Regions from separate parts of the Homo sapiens genome. Here regions 2, 3, 4, 5 and 6 are each linked to region 1. Evidence: fine-mapped expression QTL. A gene starts in region 1. Each other region holds a variant in brackets. All regions are shown on one strand. Distances are from middle to middle.

Region 1 (5,266 bases):
TGGTGGCTCACACCTGTAGTCCCAGCTACTCGGGAGGCTGAGGCAGGAGAATCGCTTGAACCTAGGAGGTGGAGGTTGCAGTGAACTGAGGTCAGGCCACTGCACTCCAGCCTGGGCAACAGAGTGAGACTCAGTTTCAACAACAACAACAAAAAAGAATTCTTATAGCGTGTAATCTCCAGTCCCTGCTTCCCCTTCCCAGGGTCTTTCTGGTGACCAGCTCATCCTGAAGCTATCTAGGGCCCCCACCCTAAGTCATATTAGCATAAACTCGAGTGTGCTTATAAGGGTTTGTTATTAATATAAAAAGTCACTTCTATCACATACGAAATTCCAAGGGTTTTAGGAGCTCTGCAGGAGAACAAAATATAATAAAAGATACTTATTGGCCAGGCAGAGTGGCTCATGCCTATAATTCCAGTACTTTACAGGCTGAGGTGGGAGAATTGCTTGAGTCCAGGAGTTCATGATCAGCCTGGGCAACGTAGCAAGACCGTATATCTAGTTAAAAACAAAAGAAAGAAAGAGATGTTTATTCAGCAAATAACAAAGGTTTTAGGAGTGCTATTGTAGGAACCCAGGACAAAGACCAAAAATATATATTTCTTATTACACACTGCAAGATTACATCGACCAAGGGCTCACTAAGATAAAATCTTAGGCACTTTCAACTACTAGTTTTACTGGGATACTTTAGTATACTTAGTGGTTGGTATTATTAGATTTTTTTTAAAGTTACTCCTTGCATCTTAAAAGTTCTTATTTAGCACTTACATTACACATTCCTCATCTATCTTAATCCATTCCATTTTCTTAATCCAATCAGTTTTAGTGTCGATTTTTGCAAAGTTTGTTATTTACAACTATTTCCTTTCCATCTGTCTCTGTTCTAGGATATTTATTTGGTTCAAACCTTTCCTCGATTTTGGACAGATGTGTATCCGGATGATGTGTCTCTGAATCCTTATACATCCTCAGACATGTTTTTTGCCCTAACAAGTGAATTATATCTTAATGGGGTATATTGAGTTACAGTGCTTTTCTTCTAGTCAATAGACGCTAGTCTACTCTCTTCTAGCTTCCAGATTGCAGATAGAAACTTGCTGGGCACAGTGGCTCATACTTGTAATCCTAGCACTTTGGGAGGCTGAGGCAGGAGGATTGCTTGAGTCCAGGAGTTTGAGACCAGCCTGGGCAACATAATGAGACCCCTACACTACAAAAAAGAGAGAGAGAGAAAGAGGGGGTGGGGAAGGAGGGAAGGAAGGAAGGAGGGAGGGAGGGAGAGAAGGAAGCCATTTTTTTTAACCAATTGTGAGTAACTTATTCTTTCCACACTTGTTAGAACCTGAAATTTTATAAAATATAGGCATGCATTTTTGTTCTTATGAATCCATCCTTTAGTGAATGTTTTCAATCCGTATAATCTGGTAGAATTTAGGAAAACTGTATTCTTTTATTTGGTTAACTATTGAATCTTCTTCATCCATTCCTCTTCCTCCTTCTAAAATTCCTTTTTTTTTTTTTTTTTTGAGACGGAGTCTCACTCTGTCGTCCAGGCTGGAGTGCAGTGGTGCGATCTCGGCTCACTGCAAGCTCCCCCTCCCGGGTTCACGCCATTCTCCTGCCTCAGCCTCCCGAATAGCTGGGACTACAGGCGCCCGCCACCACGCCCGGCTAATTTTTTGTATTTTTAGTAGAGACGGGGTTTCACCGTGTTAGCCAGGATGGTCTCGATCTCCTGACCTCGTGATCCGCCCGCCTTGGCCTCCCAAAGTTCTGGGATTACAGGCGTGAGCCACCGCGCCCGGCCTAAAATTCCTGTTATTCTCATAGCAGGGTCTCCTGAATTTTTCCTTAAGTCCCATCATTTTATTATTTCCATCTCTATAGGCTTTTGCTCTGTTGTGTTAAAGAAATAATTATTCAATGATACTTGTTAAAGCACATTAAGGAAGACTTTATTTAGCACCATCGCTACAGGTTTAGGGACCACTGCAATGAGTTCTTGCAGTGGAGGAGACAGGTTGGGATCAACTCTGAATGCATCACGGACAAGTGGGAATGTATAGCCAAGGAGCAGTGTAGGGGGTCAGTGGATGGAAAATTGGTAAGAGGCATCAGGGGTAAGGGGGATTCTATCTAAACTGACCTAACAGGATTCTCACTGAAGACAGGCCAGGGTGGTCGGATATCACTTGGGGGATGGTGGAGGATGAGATATTGAGGGTGATCAGATGTCAAGGATGGGAGGTTCTTACTAAAACAGGAATTTACAAGGAGTGCTACGGATATGTAGTGGGGGGAGGCCAGGGATGCTGCTAAACATCCTACGATGCACAGGACGATCTCCTACAATAACGAACTAGCTAGTCCAAAATGTCAATAGCGCCGAGATTGAGAAACCTTCATGTAGCTTACGGATACAGCTTTTACCCAATCGCCAGCATCCTTCTCCTGGGGCTGAACCTCTCCCCCAGGACTGTCAGGAGGAGGCGAGTGATAAGGATCCCAGGACTGCGTTTTGCCTTCCTTCCCCACCCCCACTCCCAACGGCTCCTTTCTCTTCTCTTAGCAGCACCCAGCTTGCCCACCCATGCTCAAGATGGGCGGGATGCCAGCCTGTTACATAAATGTGCCAAAAGCCTGGCCATGCCTGGAAAATGGACCAATCCGCCCGCCAAGAGGTTGGGTCTCGTTCCCTAGAGAGAAGGAAGTTTCCTCTCCTTGAAGTGAGAGCTAGAATCGCACTTTCTGTCAAGCTGAGAGAAAGACTCTTTTCCAGAGGCTAAAAGGACAAGAAAATCTGATTTGCTTGCTTCTAACTTTGCGTTTTAAAGGGGGAAGGAGGAAAGGAAAGAGGGGGAGGGTGGTTCTGCTTAGCCCCACCCCTCCGGCTACCCCAGGTCCAGCCGTCCATTCCGGTGGAGGCAGAGGCAGTCCTGGGGCTCTGGGGCTCGGGCTTTGTCACCGGGACCCGCAGGAGCCAGAACCACTCGGCGCCGCCTGGTGCATGGGAGGGGAGCCGGGCCAGGAGTAAGTAACTCATACGGGCGCCGGGGACCCGGGTCGGGCTGGGGGCTTCCAACTCAGAGGGAGTGTGATTTGCCTGATCCTCTTCGGCGTTGTCCTGCTCTGCCGCATCCAGCCCTGTACCGCCATCCCACTTCCCGCCGTTCCCATCTGTGTTCCGGGTGGGATCGGTCTGGAGGCGGCCGAGGACTTCCCAGGCAGGAGCTCGGGGCGGAGGCCGGGTCCGCGGCAGACCAGGGCAGCGAGGCGCTGGCCGGCAGGGGGCGCTGCGGTGCCAGCCTGAGGCTGGGCTGCTCCGCGAGGATACAGCGGCCCCTGCCCTGTCCTGTCCTGCCCTGCCCTGTCCTGTCCTGCCCTGCCCTGCCCTGTCCTGTCCTGCCCTGCCCTGCCCTGTGTCCTCAGACAATATGTTAGCCGTGCACTTTGACAAGCCGGGAGGACCGGAAAACCTCTACGTGAAGGAGGTGGCCAAGCCGAGCCCGGGGGAGGGTGAAGTCCTCCTGAAGGTGGCGGCCAGCGCCCTGAACCGGGCGGACTTAATGCAGGTACCCAGGGCTCAGCCGCGCCGGGGCGGGCGGGACTCCAGAGCCTCCCTCTCAACAGCACTCAGTGGACATTGACCAGACGTGAAGGCGTGCACCGCTCCACACCCAGCAGGCAGCTGCGCTGGGGCTTCCCAGACCTAAACCCAGGGCGCCCTCTTTGTTCATGCAAAACAAGGGGGAGTACTTGTAAAGCAGAATCCACCCCGAGCTAATCCATAGCCACTCAGGCCTCCAGATGAGGGCGGAACTAACATTGTTGTGGGGTGTGGGCACACTTACTCCCCAGGCTACCCTGTTCGCCATCTTAATTCTACAGATAAGGAAACTGAAGTTCAGTGAGGTTAAGCAGTACGCCCAAGGCCGTGACACTAGCAATCAGAAGAGCTGGGATTCAAGCTGAGGTCTTTGTGGCTCCAAAGACCTCTTAACTCTTTCCACTCTGAGAGTCCCGGAGCTGACAGCGGGCAGTACTCTTAAGAATTTTCTTCTGTCTGATGCTGATTTACTGACCTGGGCCAGCTGCATTGGTTGGGGTCATTCAGAAATGTGCATCAGAATCCCCCGGGGCACAAAAGAAACGTGATGGGGGCCCAGGCACGTGTACTTTGAAATACTCCTCAGGTGGTTCTGCCACACACTCCTGGTTAAGTCCCTCTGCTCTACAGCTTCTGAGGACTGGGGTGAGTGAGCACAGAGCCTAGCGCTTGATGCATGGGAACCATCGTCAAGGTTCCTAATCCCACTACTATTATTTCCCGTCTGGGACTCAGTTTCTCCATCTGTAAAGCAAGGGGTTCAGATGAGGTAAATAGCTAAGGACTCTACCAGTTATAACATCCACTGATCATGTGACCTCCAGTTTATTTGCATAAAACTAATGGCCTCTCCTTTTTCTTCTCCTTACTTACAAAAACCTGACTTCATTCTGAAATTTATTTTTGAAAAAAAAAAGAGGGGATCTTGGAAGGGGGGCCAGGGGTAGTGACATACAGATTTCTGATCATGCTCACCACTTAGTGCACTTCTTTCTCTGCAGAGACAAGGCCAGTATGACCCACCTCCAGGAGCCAGCAACATTTTGGGACTTGAGGCATCTGGACATGTGGCAGAGCTGGGGCCTGGCTGCCAGGGACACTGGAAGATCGGGGACACAGCCATGGCTCTGCTCCCCGGTGGGGGCCAGGCTCAGTACGTCACTGTCCCCGAAGGGCTCCTCATGCCTATCCCAGAGGGATTGACCCTGACCCAGGCTGCAGCCATCCCAGAGGCCTGGCTCACCGCCTTCCAGCTGTTACATCTTGTGGGTGAGGAGGCCTCCATGCTCACTCCACACAATGTGGCTCAACACCTTCATAAATCAGCCAACTTGAATCCCAGCAATCCCCCAGGGCACTCCCAGGCCTTCCTGTATCACCTGTATTGTCAGGTCCTCAAACCATGTTAGAAGGGTTTAATGTTGAGGCTGAGAATCATGGTTAGCAGATAGAGGGTCTGGATAACACTAGATAGGAGGCCTATGTACATGTTAACACCGGACGCCCAGCAGAAGTCCCAGCTTCTTAGAATCATACTGAGCTTCTCTCTGGGGTCCCAGTGCAACAGAAGGGACCAATTGACTCATTTATTCCTCCTCAATCCCACAGAGGCCAGTCAAGAACTCACATAAGGGAATCTAAGAAGACTTGGTC
Region 2 (5,266 bases), 70 kb after region 1:
TGTTCCCGCCATCTCCACAGTCATCCCTGGAGACAGAGTGCCACTTAAGGTGACTGAGAGGGAGTGGGGTCCCAGGGGCAGTTGCCTCCCTGGAACCCGAAACCCACGGCTGCACTCACGGTAGGCGGTGGCCGAGTCCCGCTCCCTTGGGCAGGGAGTCAGCAGCATGGTGAGCGCTGTGTAGGGCACCTGGAAGAACTGGGGCGTCGGCAGAGCTTAGAACCGCCCCCAGCTTTGCCTGGTGACAGCGGGCGACCTCCCCCATCCTGGGTGTCACATCCCGACACCCACAGGCCAACGTGACATATCCCAGCTGGCCACCTGAAGTCGGAGCTAGGGTCCCAAAGGCAGGAGGGGGCAGCCAGTCCCGCGCAAGGCTGGCGAGTGCCAATGGCATGGTCCAGGCACAGGCGGGTGGGGAGGGCGGCAGCCCTGCCCCCACAGCACACTTCAGAGTGGCCATGGCCAGCAATGGGCTTCGCCAGAGCACAGGCCCAGGAAGGGGCCCTGCTTACCGTGGCCAGGGCCTGGAACAGGCAGTAGAAAGTCGTGTACCAGAGGCCTCGCAGGCTGGTGAAGGGGGGCAGGAACCACAGGAAGAAGTAGGCCAGGGCGATGAAGGGGGTGCAGCCCAGCACCCTGCGGAAGCACAGCCGAGGTGGAGCGGCCCCCCGACCCAGACAGGGGAACACAAAGGGCCCAGCCTGGAGGAACCCCACCCCTTCTCTGCCCCTTGAGAATCCCTAGGCTGGGGCGCCCTGGGTGGGAGCCAGGAGCAGGGGAGAAGTGGCCGATGGGTCATGGAGGCAGTGGGGAATGGGCGGCCACTCCTCGTGGGAGCTCCAGCTGCACTCTCAGCGCTGCTGGTGCCCTTCCCTGTGTGGACATTGGGACACTGAGCTGTACTTCCTCCGTGAGGCCTCGCATGGCCTTCAGCCCAGCCTTCCCACACTCAGTGCCCCAGGCCAGGCCTGGGAGTCTTGGAGGCTTCATCCAGCCCCGTGCCATCTGGGGAGGGAGAGTCCCCAAGAATGTCTCTGAACTCCTTATCACTCACAGTCAGTCCCCAGTGCACCTGCGATATTATCCAGTCTTGTCTCCTAACCACCCAGTGGGTTTCTGCTAGGAAATAGGGCTGTGACAAACAGTGACCTCAGGGCCAGGACCAGGTGCCTGGATCCTAAGGACTGAGCGGTTGCTCACCAAGGCATGAGCCGTCCAGACCCTGTCCTCTGGCTCCTGTTGATGAAGAACCCAGCCACAGGGTCAGCAGCCGCCCCAGACACTTTTCCCCCAAACAGAACAAGTGACACCTGGGCGGCAGGGATCTGAAACAGACAGGGGAGGGGATAGAGAGCTGAGGCCCAGCAGCAGCAGAGAGCCCATCCAGGCCTGCTTGCCATCAAGAGGGAGGCCTGGGAACCGGGACCGGAGGGCAGAGCCACAGTGTCAAGGGCTCCTCAGCCTTCCCCAGGATGCTGATCCCGGGGCTGAGTCCAGGGGAGGGAGCTGAGTGCTGCCGCCCTGCACACTCCCATTAGTACTCATGTCAGCCACTGCGGAGAGGACTCCAGGGCCCTCATCTGGGGCTGGCTCAGAGCAAGGAGGGTGCCTCTGGGCTGACAGAGGTGGACACTGTGTTTCACAATGGAAAGGATTCACTGGTTTTTCTGACTATGTAAATAATACACTCATTAGAAAAACATTCTGGCTCAGAGCAAGGAGGGTGCCTCTGGGCTGACAGAGGTGGACACTGTGTTTCACAATGGAAAGGATGCATTGTTTTTTCTGACTATGTAAATAATACACTTATTAGAAAAACACTCAAACTATGCAGGAAAATACTAAGCAAAGCTCATCTGAAATCGCAGCATCCCAAGACAACTGCCAGAATCGTTTGGATGATCAGCCTTTCATAGGCTTCTTCATGTGTGCTTGAGATTGATCAGTTTATATAAATGGGATCATATCAGACTGTCATCTTAAACATTCGTGGATACCTCATTTTATTATTTTATTTTATTTTTTAATTGAGACAGGGCCTCGCTCTGTTGCCCAGGCTGGAGTGCAGTGGCACCATCTCGGCTCACTGCAACCACTGCCTCTTGGGCTCAGGTGATTCTCCCACCTCAGCCTCCCAAGTAGCTGAGACCACAGGCACGTTCCTCTACACCGAGCTAATTTTTGTATTTTTAAATTTTTTTTTTTTTTGTGGAGGTGGAGTTTTGCCATGTTGCCCAGGCTGGTCTTGAACACCTGAGCTTAGACGGTCCTCCCGCCTTGACCTCCCAAAGTGCTGGGTGTGTGAGCCACCATACCCGGCTGGATACCTCATTTTTTTGTTGTTGGTTTTTGTTTTGTTTTTGAGAGGGAGTCTTGCTCTGTCGCCCAGGCTGGAATGTGGTGGTGCAATCTTAGCTCACTGCAACCTCCACCTCCTGGGTTCAAGCAATTATCCTGCCTCAGCTTCCTGAGTAGCTGTGACTACAGGCGTGTGCCACCACGCCTGGCTAATTTTTGTATATTTAGTAGAAATGGGGTTCACCATATTGGTCAAGCTGGTCTTGAACTCCTGACCTCAAGTGATCCTCCCTCCTCGGCCTCGCAAAGTGCTGGGATTACAGCTGTGAGCCACCATGCTCGGCTGGATACCTCATTTTAAAAATTTGGTTTTACTTACCCTCCATTCTCCATCATTCCCTCCGGTAGCCAACATTAACGAGTTGGTGTATATCCTTCTAGAATTTTCTCCATGCTCACATTTTAAACATGGACAGATACATATGTATATATACATATCCATCCACACACACACATATGGAGCCTGTCTTTGTTTTGTTAAAATGGGATCATTTTATATACTCTTCTCTAAAACTAACTTTTCTTTTTCACCAGAGCATCATGGAAATCACTCTAAGTCAACTGGTATAGATCATTATTTTGAATGGCTGCATGATAGTCTATTTGATAGTGATGTTAGTGTAGTCTGTTGACTTCTGTGGGCCACACTGGAAGAAGAAGAATTGTCTTGGCCAGGCACGGTGGCTCACGCCTGTAATCCCAGCACTTTGGGAAGCTGTGGTGGATGGAACACCTGAGATCAGGAGTTCGAGACCAGCCTGGCCAACATGGCGAAACCCCGTCTCTACTAAAAACACAAAAATTAGCTGTAG[A/G]CTGGGCGCGGTGGTCCACGTCTATAATCCCAGCACTTTGGGAGGCTGAGGTGGGTGGATCACGAGGTCAGGAGTTCAAGACCAGCCTGGCCAGCATGGTGAAACTGTTGTCTCTACTAAAAATACAAAAAATTAGCCAGGCATGATGGCACACACCTGTAATCCCAGCTACTCTGGAGGCTGAGGCAGGAGAATTGCTAAACCCGGGAGGCAGAGGTTGCAGTGAGCCGAGATCATGCCATTGCACTCCAGCCTGGGTGACAGAGCGAGACTCCATCTCAAAAAAAAAAACAAACAACAAATTAGCCGAGTGTGGTGGTGTGCACCTGTGATCCCAGCTACTCGGGAGGCTGAGGCATGAGAATCGCTTGAACCTGGGAGGCAGAGGTTGCAGTGAGCCCCAAGATCACACCACTGCACTCCAGCCTGGGCAACAGAGTGAGACTCTGTCTCAAAAAAAAAAAAAAAAAAAGAATCGTCTTGGGCCACATATAAACACATAAAATACACTAACACTAATGATAGCTAATGAGCTAAAAAAAAAAAAAAACAAAAAAATTCATACTGTTTTAAGAAAGTTTACAAATTTGTGTGGGGCCGCATTCAAAGCCGTCCCGCCGCGGGTTGGACAGGCTTGGTCTATTATGTGGCTATGATACAGCTTACTTAGCCAACTGCTTCTATATTGTCGGGGATCTACATTGTTTCTCATTTTCCCACTACAAACAGGCTGCAGTAAACATTCTTGAGTACCTTGCCCTCATTGGCTTCTGGCTTTTTGTTGAGCTCGTGTCAGAAGTGCTGTCTACAAGGATAGTGGGAGCAGAAGCAGAGGTGGGGGTGGAAGGACCAGACCCCAAGGAAGATGCCAGCAGAGACTGGGCTACTGCCCACACTTACCTGTGCTATATCAAGCAGGAAAAGCTGCAGGTAAAAGGCTGTGGCGCTGGAGGCTATCTGGTTGGGGACCCCACCAATGCCATAGCACACCTTTGTACAGAATGAGAGGCGACCGGCTCTGCTGTCCTGGAGGAGACACAGGAACTAAGCCCTTCTCCCAACAGACACAAAACAGGTCCCCACACCCCATGACTTCAGTAAACATCCTGAGTCTCTGTGATGTCTTCAGGGCTTTTCCAGCAACCTCTCAGCCCCATTTTGCCCCCATGTCATCCTAAGAGGAAGTGAGACGAAGAGAAAAAAGATCCTAAACCCTGACCTCTAAACATTTCCAGGGGGGAAGTTCTTCTGGACATCTTACCCTGGGCTTCCTGCTGAAGCCGCCATCATTTACTGAGTCAGCACGGCCGTGTAAGCTGCAGGTCAGGAGACCTGGGCTTGAGCCTGCCTTTGTCACCTACCCCTCTATGTGACCTTGAATAAATCACATCATCTCTCTAAGCCTGTTTTCCTCATCTGTCAAATGCAACATCCCTGCCAACTTCACAAAGTTGTTTCTTCGATGAGTAAATGAGGCGATAGCTCATTTACCCATAGCCTGCCTACCCACAGCCCTCCAGGGATGCCTGGCAGGCGTCTCAGCTTAGCATGGTCTACATACAGCTCCTGATGGCCATTCCATTGTCTAATCCAGCTCCTAGCAAATGGCACCGCTGGTCCCCTCAGTGGCTCAGGCCACAAACTTAGGAGTCATCTATTCTTCTTTCCAGTTCTTGTCTATCAGTGAATGCCTCCTAAGTGGCTTCTGTGTCTGCCCTTGCTCCCTACAATCCACTCCACCCAGCAGCCAGTGCTCTTGTAATAACATAAATCGCACAGTGGCTCATCCCTATAAACCCAGCACTTTGGGAGGCCGAGGTAGGTGGATTGCTTGAGCCCAGGAGTTGAAGACCAGCCTGCCCAACATGGCAAAACCCCATCTCTACTAGAAACACAAAAATTAGCCAGGCATAGTGGCCGCCTGTAATCCCAGCTACTCAGGAGGCTGAGGCAAGAGAATTGCTTGAACCAGGGAGGCAGAGGTTGCAGTGAGCAAATATCACACCACTGCACTCCAGCCTGGGTGACAGAGACTCAGTCATAAATAAATAAATAAATAATCAGATCCCATCTCCTCTCTGATTAAAACTCTC
Region 3 (5,266 bases), 21 kb after region 1:
TGATTGGAACCTAAAATCAATTTGAAGGTACATACACTGAATCACTTCAATGTACAAAGAGCATCAATTCTGCTTTTAATTATATCTGAGTGTTTTTTGAAAGCAGTGTAAGAGAGTAGAGTCATTTCTAAGGGTGGGAAGATAAGAAAGGAGCTACAGCTGTAATTTTCTTTTGAATGCTTTTATGAATGCATTATTAGTTTTTGTAATGCACGGTGTGCCTTTAGGTAATGTAAAAAGAATTTTCTAAAAGACTTTCTTGTAAGAGAAAAACTGAAATTAGACTTTAAAACTTAGAGTGTGATTTGTCTAAGTGGCAGGCTAGCTTGCCTCTGGTGTAGTTGTTTTAATAACAAGGAGAAATTCCTTCTATTAGCAGTCATGACCAGTCCATCATTTGGATTGATATATCTGTTAGCTGAATTTCATGACCTAAAGTTAAGACTTAAAACTTCCCTCTAATTGTTTGGAAATTCCATATCCTGTCGCAATTAAGTTACAAGAACTTGCACTCAGTGGACAAACACTGACTCCCACTCTGCACACAGTACTGTACGAAGATGCTGAGGATATAATTATGATCGGTCCTCTGTGCAAGGCATCCAAAGCTCAATTTTTCAAATGCTTTTAAGAGTGCAACAGATGACTGTGTTTATATGTGCACACACATGTGCCAGAGCTGCTTTACTTTCATCTGGGTTAAATTTTTGAGTTTCTAAGAAAAAAATTCGTAGGAATAGAGAATTCATTGACTGAAAGTCTGAAAACAACTGATGTGACCTTGATCTTATTATTGCTCTTCTGTTTAACAGCTTTAGTGGCTCTCATAGGCCAATGTCCAGACTCATTAGCATACTGCATCATGATTTTCTGCATCATCTTTTAAGAGCTCCAGTAAAATGGTTCATTTCCCAGTTTACCTGCAGAGCCTCACCTGTCCTCTCCAGGTGCTAGCCAGTATGTGTTTGCACTTTGGGGGAGTTCTTTTAGTGGGTGTCTCCTTTGACCCACCTCAGTTATAAATACTCTAGACCAATATCTTTTATATGCCCCATAGTGGGCACCTGAAATAGTCCTTGATGCCATCTTTTGTTATCTTATTGGTGTCACAGCAGAAAATATGCGTATGTCTTTTATGCAGGCTGACTTCTGAGAAATTATTGTAGGCATTTGAGTCATCAAAGAAAGCCAGGAACCAAGACATTCTGAAGGAAATACCCTCTGGCTGGTCTAGTCTCACAATAGAGGTGAGCACAGGGACTTTGGTGACTAAAATGCAAGGCAGTTCCTTTCTCTCGTTTTCTCCATCCTAAAGCACTGCTTCTTCATTAGCTCCTCCACCCTCAGCAAAGGAATACAGCCAGGATTTCTTGGAGACAAAAAAGGTAGATCATGTAGCCAAGATGACATGGCCTCATAGCATATATATGACATCATGTGACATGTATCAGTGGGTCTATGAGGAACACTAACAGTACCTGTTATCAGCCCCTCCGTCCTCAATCTTGAAACAATTCGAAGTCGTCACTGATAGAAAACCGTATTGGCTGAGTGCAGTGATTTAAACCCATAATCCCAACACTTTGGGAGGCTGAGAGAAGATAGCTTGAGGCCAGGAGTTTGAGACCAGCCTGGGCAACATAGTGAGATTCCCCCATCTCTATTTTTTAAAAATAATAAATAAATGATTAAAAAAAAAAAAGAATAACCCCAACTATGGCCAGGAGTTTTTCTCATCCTATACCAACTGAAAGAAAAATGTTTGAGGCTGGGCGTGATGGCTCACACCTGTAATGCTAGCATTTTGGGAGGCCGAGGCAGGCGGATCATAAGGTCAGGAGATTGAGACCATCCTGGCTAACATGGTGAAACTCCGTCTCTACTAAAAATACAAAAAATTAGCCAGGTGTGGTGGTGGGCACCTGTAGTCCCAGCTACTCGGGAGGCTGAGGCAGAAGAATGGTGTGAACCCGGGAGGCAGAGCTTGCAGTGAGCCGAGATCATGCCACTGCACTTCAGCCTGGGCAA[C/T]AGAGTGAGACTCCGTCTCAAAAAAAGAAAGAAAAAAAAGAAAAATGTTTGAGTATATTGCCTCAGTCTCCTATGGCCTATATATAACCTACACCAATAAGTGTGCTGATTTTAAAACCTAACTGGTGTTTCTGGTTAGTTACAATAAATGTTGATGAAATAAGCACTATATGTGGAAACAAGTTCAGAATCATACATTCTTCTCAAAAGTAATTCCTCAATGTAAGTCAGAACAAATCTAGGTGAAACTAAGCAGTGTATGTGAAAACAAGCTCAGAATCACACACTCTTTTCACAAGGAACTTCCCAATGTGAGTTAGTGTACGACTTCAAGCCCTTAACACACCTTCATTTGTTTAGACACAAAAAGTGTTCTGTATCCATCTGGGTGAGTGGAGCTCATCCCTCTGGCTGTAGTCCAAACAAAGATTGCAAGAGCACATAAGGTGCTCAAGTCCCACATCTGATTGCTAGGCTACAAGATTTGGAGCCTATATTTCTTTAGTTATGCAGAGGAGGATTCTGAGCCTGAGATGAGCGGCAGGTAATATCTACTGTGCAGGGTTGCTTAGAGGATCAATGGTAATAATTTAAAAGTATATAGCCAGGCACAGTGGCTCACACCTGTAATCCCATCACTTTGAGAGGCCAAGGCAGGTAGATCAGTTGAGGTCAGGAGTTTTGAGACCAGCCTGGCCAATATGACAAAACCCTGTCTCTACTAAAAATACAAAAATTAGCCAGGCGTGCTGGTGAGCATGACAATCGTTTGAACCCAGGAGGCGGAGGTTGCAGTGAGCCAAGATTGTGCCACTGCATTCCAGCCTGAGTGACAGAGCGAGACTCCATCTCAAATAAATAAATAAATAAATAAAATAAAAAAGTATGTAGAACAAGGCCCAGCATGTAAAATGCTCACATTGTAGCTATTATATTTATCACTCACCTAGCCACTTGGAACCCTCCTTTCTTTCCACTCTTTCCCAAGGGCACCTGGCTTGTGTGGTCCTTAGAGCACTTCCTACCTAAAATAAGGATGGACAGGAGTTTGTCAAGCACAGAGCCTTTATTTTACATTTTCTCAAAGAGGACATTGTTTAAGTGAGCAGCTAACAGAATTTATAAGAGAGAAAGTGACAGCAAAGGTAACTGGCTCAAGTCCCTCTGTGTACGGTACGCCATGTACATTTCATGTCTGAGCACCTTGTGTGTGTGGTTTAAGTGAAGGTAAGGCAGTGTAGATTGTGCGAACAAGAGATCTGTGTTCTGTCATCAGGAAAGGCTACTACATGCATCACACAAAATGCACAACCTGAAATGCTTCAATCTGCAACCGAAGTTTCCTCAAGCAAGAATTCGCATGAACACTGACGAACACATACAGAGCAACTTGGGCAGAGAGAATGGATGATGCCATGAGGCAGTGAGGTTAGCACACTGATCAAGAGCCCCAAAAGCAGGAGCCGTCCCAGTGGCAGAGCAGGCTAGGAGGGTGAGCAGCAGCCATCTCCAGCCACCTTGAGTTCCTTCCTGCCTTCACTCTAAGTTGAGCAGCTCCACGTCAAAGATGAGGGTGGCATTGGGAGGGATGACACCGGGGTGGCCCGTGGCTCCATATGCCACATCAGGGGTGCAGGTCAGCTTCGCCCTCTGCCCCAAGCTCATCTAGCAGGGATGGGGGCAGATGGGGAGAGGAGAAAGAGGACCCAGCTTGATTTAAAAGAAAAAAGTTAGATGACTATGGCATTTTCCCAAACCATCCTCAATGTTAACTCTGAAGATCTCAGATGAATTTTACATGGGATACATTGAAATCGTGCTAACAGCTTTAACAAACGCAGATTCTGCCTCAGCAGAGATGTGACTGTGGGGCAGTAACCCTCACAGAGTGGTCTCAAATTCATGCATCTGACAAACATTACTGGTTATTCAATTTGTGTATGACTGAAACACTTCCATTTGTTCATAGTTCACCCTCTTCCAAAGAATAGGCCTCTTTAGGAAAAGAGGGTGTATGAATAGCACACGTAAATACTCAAGTAGGTGACAGGGGCAGTTATTTAAAGTGGTTTAGAGACTAGAGTCACCAGCAAGGTGGCAAGGGGGACCTATTGTGGCCAACCGTGGTGGCTCACACCTGTAATCCCAGCACTTTTGGGAAGCCAAGGTGGGCAGATCACTTGAGTCCAGAAGTTCAAGACCAGCCTGGCTAATATGGCAAAACCCTGTCTCTACTAAAAAATACAAAAAGTCCGGGCGTGGTGGCTCACACCTGTAATCTCAGCACTTTGGGAGGCCGAGGCAGGTGGATCACCTGAGGTCAGGAGTTCGAGAGCAGCCTGGCAAACATGGTGAGACCCCGTCTGTACTAAAAATACAAAAATTAGCCAGGCGTGATGGTGATGGTGCACACCTGTAATCTCAGCTACTCGGGAGGCTGGGGCAGGAAAATTGCTTGAACCTGGGAGGAGGAGGTTGCAGTGAGCTGAGATTGTGCCACTGCACTCTAGCCTGGGCAACAGAGTGAGACTACGTCTCAAAATAAATAAATAAATAAAAAACAAAAAACAGGCCGGGCACGGTGGCTCGCACCACTTTGGGAGGCTGAGGCGGGCAGATCACGAGGTCAGGAGACCGAGACCATCTTGGCTAACAACGGTGAAACCCCGTCTCTACTAAAAATACAAAAAAATTAGCCGGCCGTGGTGGCGGGCGCCTGTAGTCCCAGCTACTAGGGAGGCTGAGGCAGAAGAATGGCGTGAACCCAGGACGCGGAGCTTGCAGTGAGCCAAGATTGCGCCACTGCAGTCCAGCCTTGGTGACAGAGTGATACTCTTTCTAAAAAAAAACACCAAAAACAAGACCTATCGTAAGGGAGCATCATAGGACTTCACAGACAGACCAAGAAAGAACAGCTTGAACCAGGGCTCATCACAGCAGTTGTTGAGAACCCACTCAGCATTAGTGGGACAATTGGTGAAATTTAAATCTACTTTTGAATTTTGAATAATCAAAAATTTGAATAAGTAAGTAATTTGTATCAGTGTGAATGTCCTGGTTTTGATAATTGTACTATGGTTATGCAAGAAGGGGAAGCTGGATAGAATATAGAAGAACTCTGTACTATTTCTTTAATATTTTTGTAATTCTGAAATTCTTTTCAAAAAAGCGAAAAAACGAAAAATTTTCTTGGCCTACTCCACCCCAACTCTTCCACTACCTCAGTCCCAGGCAACTG
Region 4 (5,266 bases), 39 kb before region 1:
GAAACCCCTCTCTACTTTTTTTTTGTAAAAATACAAAAACAAAAATTAGCCAGGTGTGGTGGCAGGCACCTGTAGTCCCAGCTACTTGGGAGGCTGAGGCAGGAGAATGGCGTGAACCGGGGAGGCAGAGTTTGCAGTGAGCTGAGATCACGCCACTGCGTTCCAGTCTGGGCGACAGAGCAAGACTCTGTCTCAAAAAAAAAAAAAAAAGTAGTGAATCTTATGGCATGTAAATTATATCTCAATAGGAAGAGTCCAACAGTAAGAATACAAACAACCCAACTTAAAATTGCCAATTTTAAAGTGGGCAAAAGATTTGAACAAACACTTTGCCAAAGAAGATAGATAAATGGCAAGTAAGACTTGAAAAGATGCTCATAATCAGTCATTAAGGAAATGCAAATTAAAACCACAATGAGATGTCACTATACATCTTTTTAAAATGTCTTGAGTTAAAAAGGCCATACAATAAATCAGTATAAATAAAACTATTCCAAATGTTGGCTAGATTATGAAACAACTGGAACTCTCACACACTACTAGTGGGAATGTAAAATAATTCAATGACTTTGGAAACTAGTTTGGCAGCTTCATAAAGTTAAATTCATTTACCATATGACCCAGTCACTCCACAACTAAATATCTACCCAAGAGAAATGAAAGCATACGTCCATACAAAGACACACACATGAATGTTCATAACAGCTTTATTTGTAATAGCCCCAAACTGGAATCAACCCAAATGTCCATAAACAGGATGAACAAATTGGGATATATCCAGATAAGGGAATAGCATTCAACCAAAAAAGGAATGAAGTATTGATACATACAACATGGGTGAGTGGCAAAATAATTATGATGAGTGAAAGAAGACAAACAGAAGGAAAAGAAATATATACTGTAAGATTCCATTTGTATACAATTTTTAAAATGCAAACTAGAGTGACAGAAAGCAAAGCAGGCTGGGCGCAGTGGCTCACACCTATAATCTCAGCACTTTGGGAGGCCGAGGCGGGCAGATCACTTGAGGTCAGGAGTTTGAGACCAGCCTGGCCAACATGGTGAAACCCCGTCTCTACTAAAAATCCAAAAAAATTAGCCAGGTGTGGTGGCGCAGGCCTGTAATCCTAGCTACTCAGGAGGCTGAGGTAGGAGGATCACTTGAACCCGGGAGGTAGAGGTTGCATTGAGCCGAGATCACGCCAGTGTTTTCCTGGCTGAGTGATAGAGCGAAAGAAAGAAAAGAAAAAGAAAAGGAAAGAGAGAGAAAGAATGAAAGAAAGAGAAAGAAAGAAAAGCAGTGGTGGGGGGATGTGAGGGAGGGATTACAACAGAATATTAAGGAAGCTTTGGGAGTACTGAATATGTCCACCATCTTGATTGTGGTGATGTTTTCGTGTGTATACATGTCAAAACTTACCAAGTTTGTACACTTTATTTGAGACAGGGTCTTATTCTGTCACCCAGGTGGGGATGCAGTGGCACAATCACAGCTCACTGCAGCCTCAAATTCCTGGGGTCAAGCAATCCTCCTGCCTCAGCCTCTCAAGCAGCTGGGACTATAGGTGTATGCTACCACACCTGGCTATTATTGTTCGTTCGTTTGTGGAGACAGGGTCTCAGTATATTGCTCTGCCTGGTCTAGATAGAACTCCTGGGCTCAAGCGACCCTCCCACCTCAGCCTCCCAACGTGCTGGGATTACAGGCATGAGGCACAGTGCCAGACACACACTTTAAATATATGCAGTTTACTGTATATCAATTACATCTTAATAAAGCTGTTTAGAAAAAAGAAACTACAATCTAAAAACAATATAACTGGCTGGGCGCAAGGGCTCACAGCTATAATCCCAGCATTTTGGAACACCACGGTAGGTGGATTGCTTGAGCTCAGGAGTTGGGGACCAGCCTAGGCGACACAGTGTAGAGATTTTTTGTATCTCTACAGAAAATACAAAAATTAGCCAGACATGGTGGCGTGCGCCTATACTTCCAGCTACTAGGGAGTGGAAGGATGGCTTGATTCCAGGAGGAAACATAGCAAGACCCTGTCTCAAATATAAATAAATAAATAAATACATCATATCAAAATTTGGGTGATGCAGCTAAGGCAGTACCTCAAGAGAAACTTATAGCTATGTTACATTTTAAAAGGTATATAATCAATGACCTATGATTCCACCTTAAGATGTTAGAAAAAAACAGCAAAGTGAATATACAAAGTTAGTAAAGTGAAGGGAATAATAAACAGAATGAAATAAAAACAAACAATAGAAAAAACAATATATTTAGCACAAGCCACTTCCTACTGCAACGATCCAAGTAAAAAAATCTCCAAATCCCACACTATTTGATATATACCTCCATAAAACAAAGGGGCTTGGGCTCCAACCATTCTTTTGAGCTCTTGAGCTTGGGAAGTGTGCCAGTTACCAGATCATCACTGTCTACATTTTTCATTGTGGTCACAAATAACAATGCCCCTGGAAAAACTAAAAATCATCTTATTTAGTATTGAACATTTCACAGTCATCTGATTTTCTCTTCTGTTTAATACCACCTGTGTCCTTGCACACACGCAAAATGGATTTTGAACAC[T/G]AACCATCCAGTTTCCCTAACAAGAGGCCTTCACTACAGACTCCAGATGACGGCTTCAGAGCCAGCCTCCTTTATAAGCAGGCGAGATGCTCTTTGAAAGAATCCCCCGTCCCTTGGAATGGATTCCCACGTCCCCCTCCAAGGCAGCCCATTCCAGCCAGTGTGGCAGCTTCAGCCTGGCCTCTCGGAGTCCCATTTGCAACACTTTTCTGACTTTGGTGGCCTCGAGTGGGAAGAACTGCAACTTTCTGGCCACAGAAACACAGGCTGAGCTGCTTAGAGAAGGCAGGGAGGGGCTTTCGGTCATACTGCGCGAGTCTTCGAGCTCTGAGCGGCTCGAAGTCCTCCCCGAGGCACGGGTGCGACGGGGATGTCGTAGGCGTCCGCACCCGCTCTCGCTCATCGCGCCCACTCCCGGCCCTTCCTCCCACCCACTAGGCCGGGCGCCTGCGGCCTCCACGCCAGCCCCGGGCCGGGGGCCTCCCGCGCAGGCGCGTCGTGCGCGGGGACCGCCCGGCCTGGCGGGGAGGTCGCCGGCCGCGACAGGCACCTCTCTGCCCTCCCAAGGCCAGCAGGCCCGCGGCCGTCCTGCTACACACTCGGGCCCGGCCCGACGACCCCGGAGCCGTCCGACTGCGGCTGGAAGGGAGCCCGCCCGCGTCTGCGGAACGCGCGAATGTTGGCGCCCACCGTCTCCCGGACGCAGCGCCGCGCGAGCACTCCGCCCCCTGCGCCGCGGGTTCCACAGCGAGTCCGCGCGGGCGGTGCCGGGGCGGCGGAGGACGGCTTCAGGCCCAAAGGGGATTGGGCGGCGGCTCTAGGTGGCGGGTCTTGGTTTGCGGAAGGGGCTGGAGTCGCTGCTTCTCGGTGACCGGCGCGTGGCCCGGCCAATCCTGCCGCCGCCACCCACCCGCAACCGCGTCCGTTGACGGTCGGGTCCTTGGTCGCCGGGTCCTTGCGGGCACCACAGAGCGGGGTGGCGTCCGCTCCCTCGAGTCCTCGGTGCCAGGGAATTCACCGCTCACCACCCCCTGCCCCGCCTTGGGTCCTGCTCGGGGACCAAACCACTGGAAGGCAGTGGCGGGAAACGGGCGCCTGTGCCGGAGGTCCTGATGAGGGGGGTCCAAGGCTTGGGGACTTGTGCGGGAAATGTGGGTTTAAGTGCCTTCAAGGTGTTTTTAGTCCATTGGGATGTTGATCAGCGTTCATAGCTGGCGCTGATGCAGGTCACCGGGAAGGGAATGTGTGGGTTTATGGCCACGCATAATCTCTTTTAGTCGTGTTTAACTTAGCAGGGTAGCTCTCCATCCTGGCTGGGTTTTGTTTTTTGTTTTTATTTTTTATTTTACAGAGTTTTTCTCAGTGTGTAATGTTTGTTTTTAAATCGCAGATAATCCTGATGTAAACCATTGACATAGCCAGAAAATCACCAGGCTGTGATTTTCCAAACTCAGCTTCATAACCTATTCTGTGTGAGCTGTGATTTTTCTATGATTCTGTTTTCCTCTTTGGGTACTGGTGGGCCCTGAATGATGGACCACCGTTTTCACCCTGTACCTTTTCAAAGTACACTTGCTGATCTTAGAACTGTCTGCAGTGTCTTAAGGACATTTGTATTCACATGCCTTTTAAAAGCTAGCCAGAGTCAATGGCTTCAACTGCACTTTCCCTTTCAGAGTTGAGGGAACATGAGCCATTTGCAGAGCTTATTGTTAGACACCCTCTTGGGAACCAAGCATGTGGACAGTGCAGCCCTCATCAAAATCCAGGAGCGGAGCTTGTGTGTAGCATCACCAGGTTTCAATGTAAGAAAAAACAAGTTTGGACCTAAGACTTGATTTACTTATTATTTCTATTCTTCCAAAAAATGAAGCAGACATGACTTTTTTTTTTTTTTGAGACGGAATTTCACTCTTGTTGCTTAGCCTGGGATGCAATGGCATGATCTCAGCTCACTGCAACCTCCGCCTCTCAAGCGATTCTTGAGCCTTAGCCTCCCGAGTAGCTGGGATTACAGGAGTGCGCTACCAGGCCCGGCTAATTTTTGTATTTTTAGTAGAGATGGTGTTTTACCATGTTGGTCAGGCTAGTCTCAAACTCCTAACCTCAGGTGATCCACCTGCCTCGGCCTCCCAAAGTGCTGGGATTACAGGCATGAGCCACCGTGCCCAGCCCAGACATGACTTTTAAATGAACTTTTTCTGTAAAGAGCTACATAAATATTTTAGGTTTCTAGGCTTAGTCTTTTTACTGTTGATATAAAGGAATACCTGAAGCTGGGTAATTTATAAAGAAAAGAGGTTTATTTGGCTCACAGTTCTACTGCCTGGAAGACTGGTCATCTGTGAAAGCCTCAGGCTGCTTCCACTCATGGCAGAGGTGAAGGGGAGCCAGCATGTGCAGAGATCACAGTGGGGGAGAGGAAGCAAGAGAGAGCAAGTGGAGAGGTGCCAGGCTCTTTCTAAGAGCCAGCTCTCCTGGAACAAATACAGTGAAAACTCACAGCTTCCCCCAGCTCGCAGGGAGGGCATCAGTCTATTCATGATCCAAATACCTCCCATTAGGCCCCACCGAAAACGCTGGGAATCAGATTTCAACATGAGATTCAAACTATAGCACAGGGCCGTAGAGTCTCTGTCACAACCACTCAACTCTGCAATTGTAGAG
Region 5 (5,266 bases), 990 kb after region 1:
AGATCCTTGAGCATTCCCTGCTGCCTCAACTCTCTCCCTGAATATGGAGAGCCTGGAGACTATCTACCTTGTATCTAGGAATTTGGGAAGGATAGGCAATATTGCTCCCACCAAAACATAATTGACCCACTCCTGCCTCTGAGGCTTTGTTAATTGAATTATCATCCTGCAACACTTACTCCCATTTTTTTCTGACTGCATATCCTATTATTTAAGCTCAATTAAGGTGTTGCCTGCTCTCAGAAGCCTTACCTGACAAAGAAAGTCAACAGTCCTCCTCTGTATTCTGATAGTTCTTGCTGTCTCTAGCCATCATCTAGCATACGCTTTTAATTAGTTTTCTTCATGCTTAATATTTTCCACTAGATTGTAAGCTCTTCAAGGCCAATGGCTCTGCCCTTTTCAATCTTTGTATGACCAGAGGCCTTCTAGCACAGAGATTTGTTTATAGTAGGTGTGAAATAAATGTGTGATATTGGCTGATTTATGAGCATGCCCTCTAATACAAGACATATGGAGTTCATTGGCTTGGTGCTTGAGTGTCACCACCCCCACACCTCCACCCTTTTCTCCAAGTTATCCTCTTGGCCTGGCCCAGCTGAAGCTGTGGAAAGTAGATAAATCATCCAGCTCCTAGGTCAGACAGCTCAGAGACAAATGAACACAGCAGGTCGTTGCCACTATAATGATGCAGTGGCTGTTCTGTTTGCCAGTTACTGGACAAACAATAGATTTCCTTCCTTCTCTTAACTTTAATTCCATTTCTCATAAGCCTGAAATTGCAGTTGCTTTTTCCAACTTCTTTTCCCCCCACCCTGCCCTAGTTCATGTCAGTGTTACCTTAACTAACATTTTTATGGCTTGAAAATCAATTCAGCACCAGATATAAAGACATTCTCTGTCTCAAGCCTTTGTTCTCAGCACTAGCCTCACACCCTCCATTGGCCCAGTGCTGTAGCTTCGAACCTGCTTCAGGGTCTCTAGTCTCTGATTCCTTTTTTTGTTTGAACTTTTGTTAGATCTGCATTGATGTTTATGAGATAGACTTTCTCTTGCTCTCCTTTCATTGATTTATTTTCAGATAACATAATCTTTGTAATTATGAAGTTGAAAAGATATTGGTTTGAACAATCCTTGTTAATCGTAAGCCTCACTTATTTTACCCTTTTCAACTTAATGATCTTGGAAGACAGAAAAGAGATTCTGGGCTTAAAGCGGGAGGTTTGGAAAAGATTTCACTGGTTCTCAATGGCCAGGTGCAGAGCCGTATTTAAGATCCTTTACCATAGAGATTCAGATTATTTTGTCAGTTCTTTCTTTAGGCCAGCTATGCTGTCTTTAAATTCAGCACCATGGATAGAGGAGATTAGGGGCAGGGATGCATGAAGCAAAACCCTGCCTGGGGAAGTTTTAGTAGCACACAAAATGATTACTTTTATTCTCAGGAATGGTCTTATGAGTTGAGAAGCCCTATACAGGACACCTTTGCTGCCCTGAATGAACACCTGAGCTGAAATAAGTTTTACTAAAAAGCATTCACATCGAAATAAAAATATTAAGATTTGAATTCCAGTATTTATGTTTCCTAGGTACATGACTTTGTGCCTGGTAAACTTTCTGAGAACCAACTTCTGCTGTACAGATATGTTTGGGAAACTACTACCCTGAGAAGATGTAGAGTGTACTTCTAAGTTGGGTTTACATTCTGGGTCTACTCTTTACTTTGGGATCTTGGACAAGTTACTTAAATTTTCTATGGCTGTTTTCTCATCTCTTAAGAAGGTGAAAGGGGTACTTTATTCAAAATGTTGATGGGAGACTTAAGTGGGATATTACATGAAAAATTCTTAGGAGAGTATATGGCATACAGTAAGTGCTACATTATCATCACTATAATTAATAAAATTACTGTAAAAATTACATGAGATAATATATGTAGAAAGTTGGACAGGGACTAGCCATGCAATAATTCTGGTTATACTTTCTTTTCTCCTCATTGATGTTTGAAATCACTCCATTCCTTTGCATTAAGCATTGACCTCAAAGACTTATAGCACCCTTGGAAGAGGATTTATTTTCTTGTACACCTGTGTATGTTTGAATTAGTTCGTCACTTACTGTGGGACAGAAAAACGTAAAAGTTCTGGGTGCTAGAGCTAGGGAGAGTGGGCCAGGAAAGAAAGGATAAAAGATTGCTATACTGTTTTCTGGTTTGTTGAAGGGGTGAGTGTAATTT[A/C]GAGAATTAAACGCTAGGAGTCCTCTTCATGATCCTATGCAAAAGGCTCACCATCCACACATCGTAGCTGCAGGCTTGTTGTGATTTGCTATATGAGACTCTAGAATCTTATTGAGAATGGAAAAGAACTCATATAATATGCATAGAAATCCAGAAGCTCTGCCTAATGGTCTTGGAAATTGTGCCTCTAAACAGGCATCCTTTTGCTTCATTCATTCATTTATATATTCACATATTGTACATTAATTAATTTATACTCAATAAGCATTTATTGATAATTTACTGTATCTAGGCATAATGTTAAGGATTATAGCAGAGAAATATGATTTAGACTAAAGGCTGCCATCAGGCATTGGGGAACACAAAACATATATGAAAATCATTAATTAAGTGAATCAATAAATATTAAGTATTTAATATTGTGTCTGGCAAATAATTGGGATTTAATATTTGTTAGATGAGTTTACTGTAAGTTTTTATTATTTATACTATCAAGTTTGATGAATTACTGTCTACATATGGGGTTTACAGGAGGAGTGAGATATTGCTCTGTTGGGGGCTGAAAGGAGATATCTTCAGAAAGGAGGTTGCATTTGAGATGGGCCTTGAGGCAGGGGTATAACTTGGTCATGGACAAATGGAAAGGAAGTGGGTCTCTAGCTGAAAGGTATGGTGTGAACCACAAGGCAGTAGGAAATCACAGGAGATTGATCATGAAAAAATACCAAGTACTTTGAAGTAGAAGAAACATTATGTACAAGTATTGAGAGATGAGACTGGGAAGGTAGGTTAGAGATTTATCTTGGTAGCTTTGAGTGCCAGGCTGCAGACTTTGGGCCTTGTGGTGTGACTGAAGGGGTATCATTCAAAGTTTTATTTATTTATTTAATTATTTATTTATTTATTTATTTATTTATTTATCACTCCAGATGAATAATCAGGTCTTGATGTGTTTTTATAATAAAAAAAAATTGACAGTAGTCAACAGTAACACCATAGTTGCTATTCTTTTTAATGAAATTGTCCTGTGAGAATTCCAGGTATACAAAATGAACCCACCTAGTCATCCAAATTTTGGATAATAATCTCTTGATTTGTGATTTTCTATTTACAGATTCAGCCATGTCTTCCTAGGATCCAGCATCCAAACCTGGACCAAAGTCCTCGGATCCTCAGCAATGGGGGTGCATCTGGTGATGGTGTTCATGCTAAATTTGTGCCAAGAGACACCTGTACTTGTGGGAGAATTAATATTTCACTTCTGTTTAGGTTTCTTTTCTGGGAGCTGCTATCACTGAATACATAAAGAAATTGAGCCTATATGATTTCAATCTTCACCTTCTGATGCTGATGAAACAGGATTCTATGCAGGTGAGTGGGCTGAGGAGCCACGAGGTTAAGGGAAGTTCTGTGGGATATGAGGGGATCCTTTACTCCATTTCCTGTTTTCCCTCCTCTTTCCTCTTTCTCTCCTCCTCTTTCCTCTCCCCTCCCCTCTTCTCCCCTCCCCTCTCCTCCTCCCCTCCCCTTTGCTCTCCTCTCCTCTGCCTTTTTGTGTTAGTCAGGGTTCTCTAGAGGGACAGAACTAATAAGATAGATGTATATATGAAAAGGAGTTTATTAAGGAGTACTGACTCACAGGATCACAAGGTGAAGTCCCACAGTAGGCCACCTGCAAGCTGAGGAGCAAGGAAGCCAGTCCAAGTCTCAAAAGTACGGAAGCTGACAATGCAGCCTTCAGTTTGTGGCCAAAGGCCTGAGAGCCCCTGGCAAACCACTGGCATAAGTCCAAGAATCCAAAAGCTGAAGAACTTGGAGTCTGATGTTTTAGGGCTGAAAGCATTCAGTGTGGGAGAAAGATGAAGCCCAGAAGACTCAGCAAGTCTGCTCTTCCATCTTCTCCTGTATGCTTTATTCTAGTCACACTGGCAGCTGATTAGATGGTGCCCAACCAGACTGAGGGTGGGTCTGCCTCTCCTAGTACACTGACTCAAATGTTAATCTCCTTTGGCATCACTCTCACAGACACACCCAGGAACAATAGTTTGAATCCTTCAATCCAATCAAGTTGACACTCAATATTAACCATAATGTCTCCCCTCCTCTCTCCTCCTCTTCTTTCCCCTCCACTCTTCTCCCTCTCTCAACATGCATATGCACTTGCACACAAGACGCATATATGCACATCATATGGAGCCTCAGGCAAGATTATATGAAAGTCAGCTTCAACCTTGATATGGTTTGGCTCTGTGTCCCCACCCAAATCTCATCTTGTAACTCCCATAATTACCACATGTTGTGGGAGAAACCCAGAGGGAGATAACTGAATCATGGGGGCAGGTCTTTCCTCTGCTATTCTCGTGATAGTGAATAGACTCATGAGATCTGATAGTTTTAAAAACTGGTTTCCCTTCACAAGCTCTCTCTCTCTTTGCCTGCTGCCATCCATGTAAGATGTGACTTGCTCCTCCTTGCCTTCTGCCTTGATTGTGAGGTCTCCCCAACCATGTGGAACTGTAAGTCCATTAAACCCCTCTCTTTTGTAAATTGCCCAGTCTTGGGTGTCTTTATCAGCAGTGTGAAAATGGACTAATACAGTAAATTGGTACTGGGAGTGGAGTGCTACTGAAAAGGTACCCCAAAATGTGGAAGTGACTTTGGAACTGGGTAACAGGCAGAGGCTGGAACAGTTTGGAGAGCTCAGAAGAAGGCAGGAAAATGCAGAAAAGTTTTGAACTTCCTAGAGACTTGTTGAATGGTTTTGACCAAAATGCTGATAATGATATGGACAATAAGGTCCAGGCTGAGGTGGACTCAGATGGAAATGAGGAACTTGTTGAAAAGTAGAACTCTTGTTATGTTTTAGCAAAAAGACTGGCAGCATTTTGCCCCTGCCCTAGAGATTTGAGGAACTTAGAACTTGAGAGAGATGATTTAAGGTATCTGGCGTAAGAAATTTCTAGACAGCAAAGCATTCGAGAGGTGACTTGGATGTTATTAAAGGCATTCAGTTTTAAAAGGGAAACGAGC
Region 6 (5,266 bases), 270 kb after region 1:
CCTTGGCCTCCCAAAGTGCTGGGATTACAGGCGTGAGCCACCCCGCCCGGCCTGTTAATCCTCTTAACAGGCTTGCAGGTAAGCACTCTGATTATATAGAGCAGGGGAGTGGGAGATGTAGGCTGGTAATTTATTTTTTTTGAGACAGAGTCTCACTCTGTCACCTAGGTTGGAATGCAGTGGCCTGATCTTGGCTCACTGTAACCTCTGCCTCCCAGGTTCAAGCAGTTCTCCTGCCTCAGCCTCCCAAGTAGCTGGGATTACAGGCGTGTGCCGCCACGCCCAGCTAATTTTTGTATTTGTTTGTTTGTTTAGTAGAGATGGGGTTTCACCATATTGATCAGGCTGGTCTCCAACTCCTGACCTCAGGTGATCCACCCGCCTTGACCTCCCAAAGTGCTGGGATTAGAGATGTGAGTCATCGCGCCCAGCCTGGTAATTTAATTAATATAAGGTCATTCAATAAGTTCTGGGGACTGCCTCAACCCAGGGAGCCTGATGACAGCCCTTGCTCTTACCTATGTTGCTATAATGCTTCTTTGGATTAAACTAATCATTTTGTTGTTATTGGTAGGACACTCTGCAGTGTGCAGTGCTCATAGGAGTGTAAGGTATTGGTAAGGGAGTAAATAAGAACCTCATTTTAGAGGATCTTGAGTTTTGTCAAGCCTCAGATTGTACTTTGCACCTGAGATAAAAACAGAAAACTACCTTTAAAAACATCACTCATGGCTGGGTGCGGTTGCTCACGCCTGTGTAATCCCAGCGTTTTGGGAGGCCAAGGCGGGTGGATCACCTGAGGTCAGGAGTTCAAGACCAGCCTGGCCAACATGGTGAAACCCTGTCTCTTAAAAAATTAAAAACAAAAATAAATAAATAAAATTTAAAACATCACTCATTTACAGGAAAAACATTTAAAAATTACATTGACATTCTAATCAGAGTATAAAGCTCATAAACTTTGAAGGGAAAGTAATGTCTTTTGATTATCTTAATTTCTGCAGTTCCTAGCACCTTGTCTGGAATGCAGTCTGCACCAAATAGAAAATTATTCAGAGAATTATACTAACATTAAAAATATATATAGTAAAAATTATGAATATTGTTCAATGAATTCTTCTGTCATAAATATATTTTTCAGAAACTTTAATTGTTTAGTGACAGACTCACATAAGATACCACATGGAATACCTGATTTCTTAAATTTGGCAGACAGAGGGGAATGAATATTTTACTGAATATCTGTGAGCCAGGCACGATGCCATGATTTGTGTATTTTTTATTTCTGAATTTCATAACTGGAAATGTATTTCATATATATGTTATGTACCAAAACGTCCCAAAAAACTTACGTCACCTTTAGAAAATCATAAAAACCTCATCTTTCCTTTGGAGAGATTATCATAGCTTTTTATCTCCATTTGTGAATTACCATTTTATAGCATTATTATCTATGTTTTCTTATAGCTTTTTTTGTGTGTAAATATAAAGTATGCTTTAGTTCCAGTTGGTAGAACTAGTTGCCATGAACCAGTGGAGAAGAGCAACCAAATTTTATTTGATTATCAATAATTGGTTTTTAGCTATTTAGTCATATTTATTCTGGCTTGTTTTGACCTTTAATATTTTTCTTAGATAAATATTTCCTTGTGTATGAAATTATCACTCAAAAGATACTCAGTTATTTCCCAGATTAAACTATGACTTGTACTAAATATTTAGCTTTTTTTTTGTTTTGAGACGGAGTCTGGCTCTGTCACCAAGGCTGGAGTGCAGTGGCGCAATCTTGGCTCACTGCAAGCTCCGCCTCCTGGGTTCACACCATTCTTCTGCCTCAGCCTCCCGAGTAGCTGGGACTACGAGGCGCCTGCCACCACGCCCGGCTAATTTTTTTGTATTTTTAGTAGAGACAAGAGTTTCACCATGTTAGCCAGGATGGTCTCGATTAAATGTTTAGCTTTTAAAAGCCACTTGAGATCTCTATCTGCTAGCATAATTTAGCATCTCATTTTAGAATGCATCTGTATATTTTTTATTTTGAAAGGATATGATTTCTCTTAATCTTAATTCTCTCTCATATCCCGTACACATGTAGCATTGCTTTTTATTGAATGAATTGTCAGTTTTAATTAGGCATGTTTGAAGTATAGCAACAGCTGTTCATACTTCAGGTGGTAGTCCAGGTAAGGCTTTAAGTGTTGCATTCTCAGTAGAGATTTTAGTTCCAGTTAGTTCCCTGAGTGATAACCTAAGGCCCACAGAGAGAATAATGCTGTATGAATGAGTGTATTTTTAAGATTAGCTTTGACGGAATTTCTGACTCCATCTTAACTACACTAAGACTTCTTTGAAAAGGTGTATCCTCTTTAAAAAATAAGGGTCAGTTTGTTCCTTGTTGCTTTTATAAGAACTGGCCTTGACTCAGCTAACCTACTAATTAAACCAAATATGAAATGGACTGGTTTTGGTCAAAATTAACTCAGAGATTTTTAGTTAAATAGGTGGGATTTTATGAGAGTGCCACATCTTTTCCAGACTTGTTTTTTTTTTTTAAGCCAGTCAGTGAGTTCTTCCAAATTATATCTCATAACACTTAAGTAAATAGTCTGTAAAGGTGAAAGTGTTATATTAATTTTGTTTATAAGTTATTTTAAAAGCTGCAGTTTGTCAGTTTGCCTGTATTATTTGATAGATAACTTATTAATGTCATTTG[A/T]TTTTTTAACCCAATTTTTCTTAGCTTTGGTAGGGCACGAATATTAAATGACTTTATAAGCCCCATAACCATTGTGATTTTTTTAAACAGATATAGAAACTTTAATTTTAGAGGATAGTGAAGATGAAAATGCTTTATCAATTTTTGAGACCAATTGTCACTCAGGATCACCAAAGAAACAGTCATCATCTGCTGCTATACATAAACCCTACCTTCATTTTACAATGTGAGTGATTTATATCAACTTTCTTTGTATTTAGAGTGATTTTTGATACTTTATGATTAGAATTATGGTATATTTTTACTTATGGTTATAACTGTGAGGATATTGTTTTTCTGTTGTTTGGACACAATTCTGGAAAACTTTTACTATGTATTCTTTTTCATGTGGTAATAGTTAGTTTGTTGGTTAACTACCTAGGTGTTTTTTTCTCCAAGTAGAAGAATCTTTCCTGCTACTTTACTTTTTTTTTTTTTTTTGGGAGGCAGAGTCTCACTCTGTCACCCAGGGTAGAGTGCAGTGGCATGATCTTGGCTCACTGCAACCTCTGCCTCCTGAGTTTAAGCTATTCTCGTACCTCAGCCTCCTGAGTAGTTGGGATTACAGGTGTGCGCTACCACGCCCAGCTAATTTTTGCATTTTTAGTAGAGATGGGGTTTCACTATGTTGTCCAGGCTGGTCTCGAATCTCAGGTGCTCTTCCCGCTTTGGACTCCCGAAGTGCTGGGATTATAGGCGTATGCCACTGTACCTGGCTAAGTTTACTTTTTTTTAAAGTAATGGTGTAAATTTTTTCCCCCATGGAGGCAGAGGAAAGCTTACCCTTAGAAAGTCAACTCATGAGCCCCAACTTTATTGCTTTTTCTTTAAACTAAAATGGGCAGAAATGAAATATTTGCCATGATCTGGAATACTTTAATTTGTAATAAACTTTAGATGATCATTTAGGTCTCTAAGGCTGCTAAAGAGATTTCGATTTAGAAATTGTTCAGTAATTAAATAACTTTTTGATTTTCTAGAAACATTATACTTGCATAATTTGGATTTTATGATTTTTCAATTTACATTTACCCTTTTATTATCTGTGTTAAAGCAAGTTTTGCTGTGCACTATAATAGGTAAACACTTTTAGTGCAAATGTAATTTTAAATTAAGAGGCCAAATAGTTTTCAAATACTAACAGCATCTTTACTTGCATTTACATAATTAGCCCCATAGTTGAAGGACCATAAAGCTTCAGTCAGGTAGATCTAATAGCACTTCTATTAGAAGAGGCCGGATTGTGTGTACTTTTAATATTTTGAACAAATTTAAGTCTCCAACTTGAAGTTTTCCCATGTAGATTTTGGTGAAATGTTGATTTGATTATTTGCATTGATAACCCTTTCTTGTTTTTCATTTTTAAAAATGAGCCTAAATTACTTTCATCTCCTCTTTTTTTCTTCATATGTTCTTTAATAGCAAACTCTTTGTAAGTTTTTTTCTTCTTCTCCAGATCCTTTCTTTTATGCTCTTGGGGAAGTTTTTTTATAGGCTATTCCAGCATTTTACAGATTTGTTTTATTGATAGTTATGGGAAAGCCAATTTTTTTTTTTTTTTTTTTTTTTTTGCTTTTCACCTGGCTAGCCTGTGCGTCTGTGTCTCTCTGTCTCTCTCTCTTTCTCTCTCTCTCTCTCCCCCCTCCCTCTCTTCTTCCCTCCCTCCCTCCGTCTCCCTCTCTTCTTCCCTCCCTCCCTCCCTCTCTTCTTCCCTCCCTCCCTCTCCCTCTCTTCTTCCCTCCCTCCGTCTCTCCCTCTCCCTCTCTTCTTCCCTCCCTCCTTCTCTCTCTCTGTGTGTGTGTGTGTGTGTAATGTGTGTGTGTGTGTGTGTGTGTGTAATGTGTGTGTGTGTGTGTTTATGTGTGTTTGACAGTTATAGTTATTTGGATTTGTATTATGTAGTAGCAGAAACTAAGTAAGTATCAAAAGACGTGTTTAATTTTATAAGATAATTGTCGTCAATAAAGGAATACAGAAATAGATTTTGATATTAGAAAGTATCATGTACAGTGTTAAGTTTGACTTTTTATTGAGGACATTTCCTGCCACTGATTTAATGTGAAACATTGGTATGGCTCATTTTGTTTTAGCTTTTCTGAAAGAATTGGTTTAATTTTAGCTTCCTTTACATAAGCTTTTCTAGTTCATTCATTTGACTTTGATTAAATAATGAGACAGCTATATGCTAGAATAAGCATTTTTTAGATGTTTTAATAATAATTATTCACTTATTTCTTTATTCACCTACCCATTTGTCCAATTTTTCTTTGTTTACCCTATGCCAGGCATTGTATGAGATGCTGAAAACATAAGCATGAATAAGATATAACATAGTTCTTACTTTGGAGAAGGTCTCATGGTTGGGGGTGACAAACATTTCAATATGGCGAAAGTGCTGTGAAAGCAGAACTAATTCTGCTGGAAGTCTGGGAAGGTTTCACAGGAGAAGTAGTGATATTTGCTGTCCTTTTCATTATGAAGGGATGGGAGTTTGCATCTGAGTGCTTTTTACAA

Which allele goes with the higher level. Alleles are on the strand shown, and positions count from the first base shown. SD is a standard deviation of normalised expression in the study named. Not every link is listed here.
With allele A in place of C in region 5, the expression in coronary artery of the gene that starts at base 2,933 in region 1 is higher (large effect, 0.86 SD a copy in GTEx).

The links.
Region 2: its variant is fine-mapped to the expression of TP53I3 in whole blood (TOPMed, PIP above 0.99).
Region 3: its variant is fine-mapped to the expression of TP53I3 in monocytes (TOPMed, PIP above 0.99). The same link has a PIP of 0.9 or more in prefrontal cortex.
Region 4: its variant is fine-mapped to the expression of TP53I3 in whole blood (TOPMed, PIP 0.99).
Region 5: its variant is fine-mapped to the expression of TP53I3 in coronary artery (GTEx, PIP 0.99).
Region 6: its variant is fine-mapped to the expression of TP53I3 in whole blood (INTERVAL, PIP 0.93).

Annotation. Positions count from the first base shown.
Region 1 is chr2:24,082,501-24,087,766 of GRCh38, reverse strand. TP53I3 (tumor protein p53 inducible protein 3) reads left to right here and starts at 2,933. Exons shown (of 5, transcript NM_004881.5): 1 at 2,933-3,578; 2 at 4,615-4,882. The coding sequence starts at 3,441. It also overlaps a transcript of FAM228B not described here. RefSeq lists enhancers at 2,148-2,648, 3,396-3,445, 3,596-3,695, 4,291-5,221 and a silencer at 3,206-3,385.
Region 2 is chr2:24,012,218-24,017,483 of GRCh38, reverse strand. MFSD2B (MFSD2 lysolipid transporter B, sphingolipid) reads right to left here. Exons shown (of 14, transcript NM_001346880.2): 2 at 4,074-4,199; 3 at 1,204-1,328; 4 at 516-639; 5 at 120-198; 6 at 1-26. Among named protein-coding and RNA genes, the nearest start is that of MFSD2B, 4.8 kb to the right of the region's middle. RefSeq lists enhancers at 302-857, 858-1,413. The variant A/G (reference allele first, on the strand shown) is at 3,174.
Region 3 is chr2:24,061,491-24,066,756 of GRCh38, reverse strand. FKBP1B (FKBP prolyl isomerase 1B) reads right to left here. Exons shown (of 4, transcript NM_004116.5): 4 at 3,076-3,693. The coding sequence ends at 3,565. Among named protein-coding and RNA genes, the nearest start is that of SF3B6, 12 kb to the left of the region's middle. The variant C/T (reference allele first, on the strand shown) is at 2,029.
Region 4 is chr2:24,121,557-24,126,822 of GRCh38, reverse strand. It overlaps PFN4 (profilin family member 4), which reads left to right and starts at 3,489. Exons shown (of 5, transcript NM_199346.3): 1 at 3,489-3,705; 2 at 4,276-4,404. The coding sequence starts at 4,288. It overlaps FAM228B (family with sequence similarity 228 member B), which reads right to left and starts at 3,354. Exons shown (of 11, transcript NM_001145710.2): 1 at 3,290-3,354; 2 at 2,363-2,493. The coding sequence starts at 2,461. RefSeq lists an enhancer at 2,603-2,852 and a silencer at 2,923-3,422. The variant T/G (reference allele first, on the strand shown) is at 2,600.
Region 5 is chr2:23,089,088-23,094,353 of GRCh38, reverse strand. It overlaps LOC107985792 (a long non-coding RNA gene), which reads left to right. Exons shown (of 9, transcript NR_171639.1): 2 at 3,506-3,607. Among named protein-coding and RNA genes, the nearest start is that of KLHL29, 290 kb to the left of the region's middle. The variant A/C (reference allele first, on the strand shown) is at 2,237.
Region 6 is chr2:23,817,420-23,822,685 of GRCh38, reverse strand. ATAD2B (ATPase family AAA domain containing 2B) reads left to right here. Exons shown (of 28, transcript NM_017552.4): 17 at 2,804-2,939. Among named protein-coding and RNA genes, the nearest start is that of ATAD2B, 110 kb to the left of the region's middle. The variant A/T (reference allele first, on the strand shown) is at 2,714.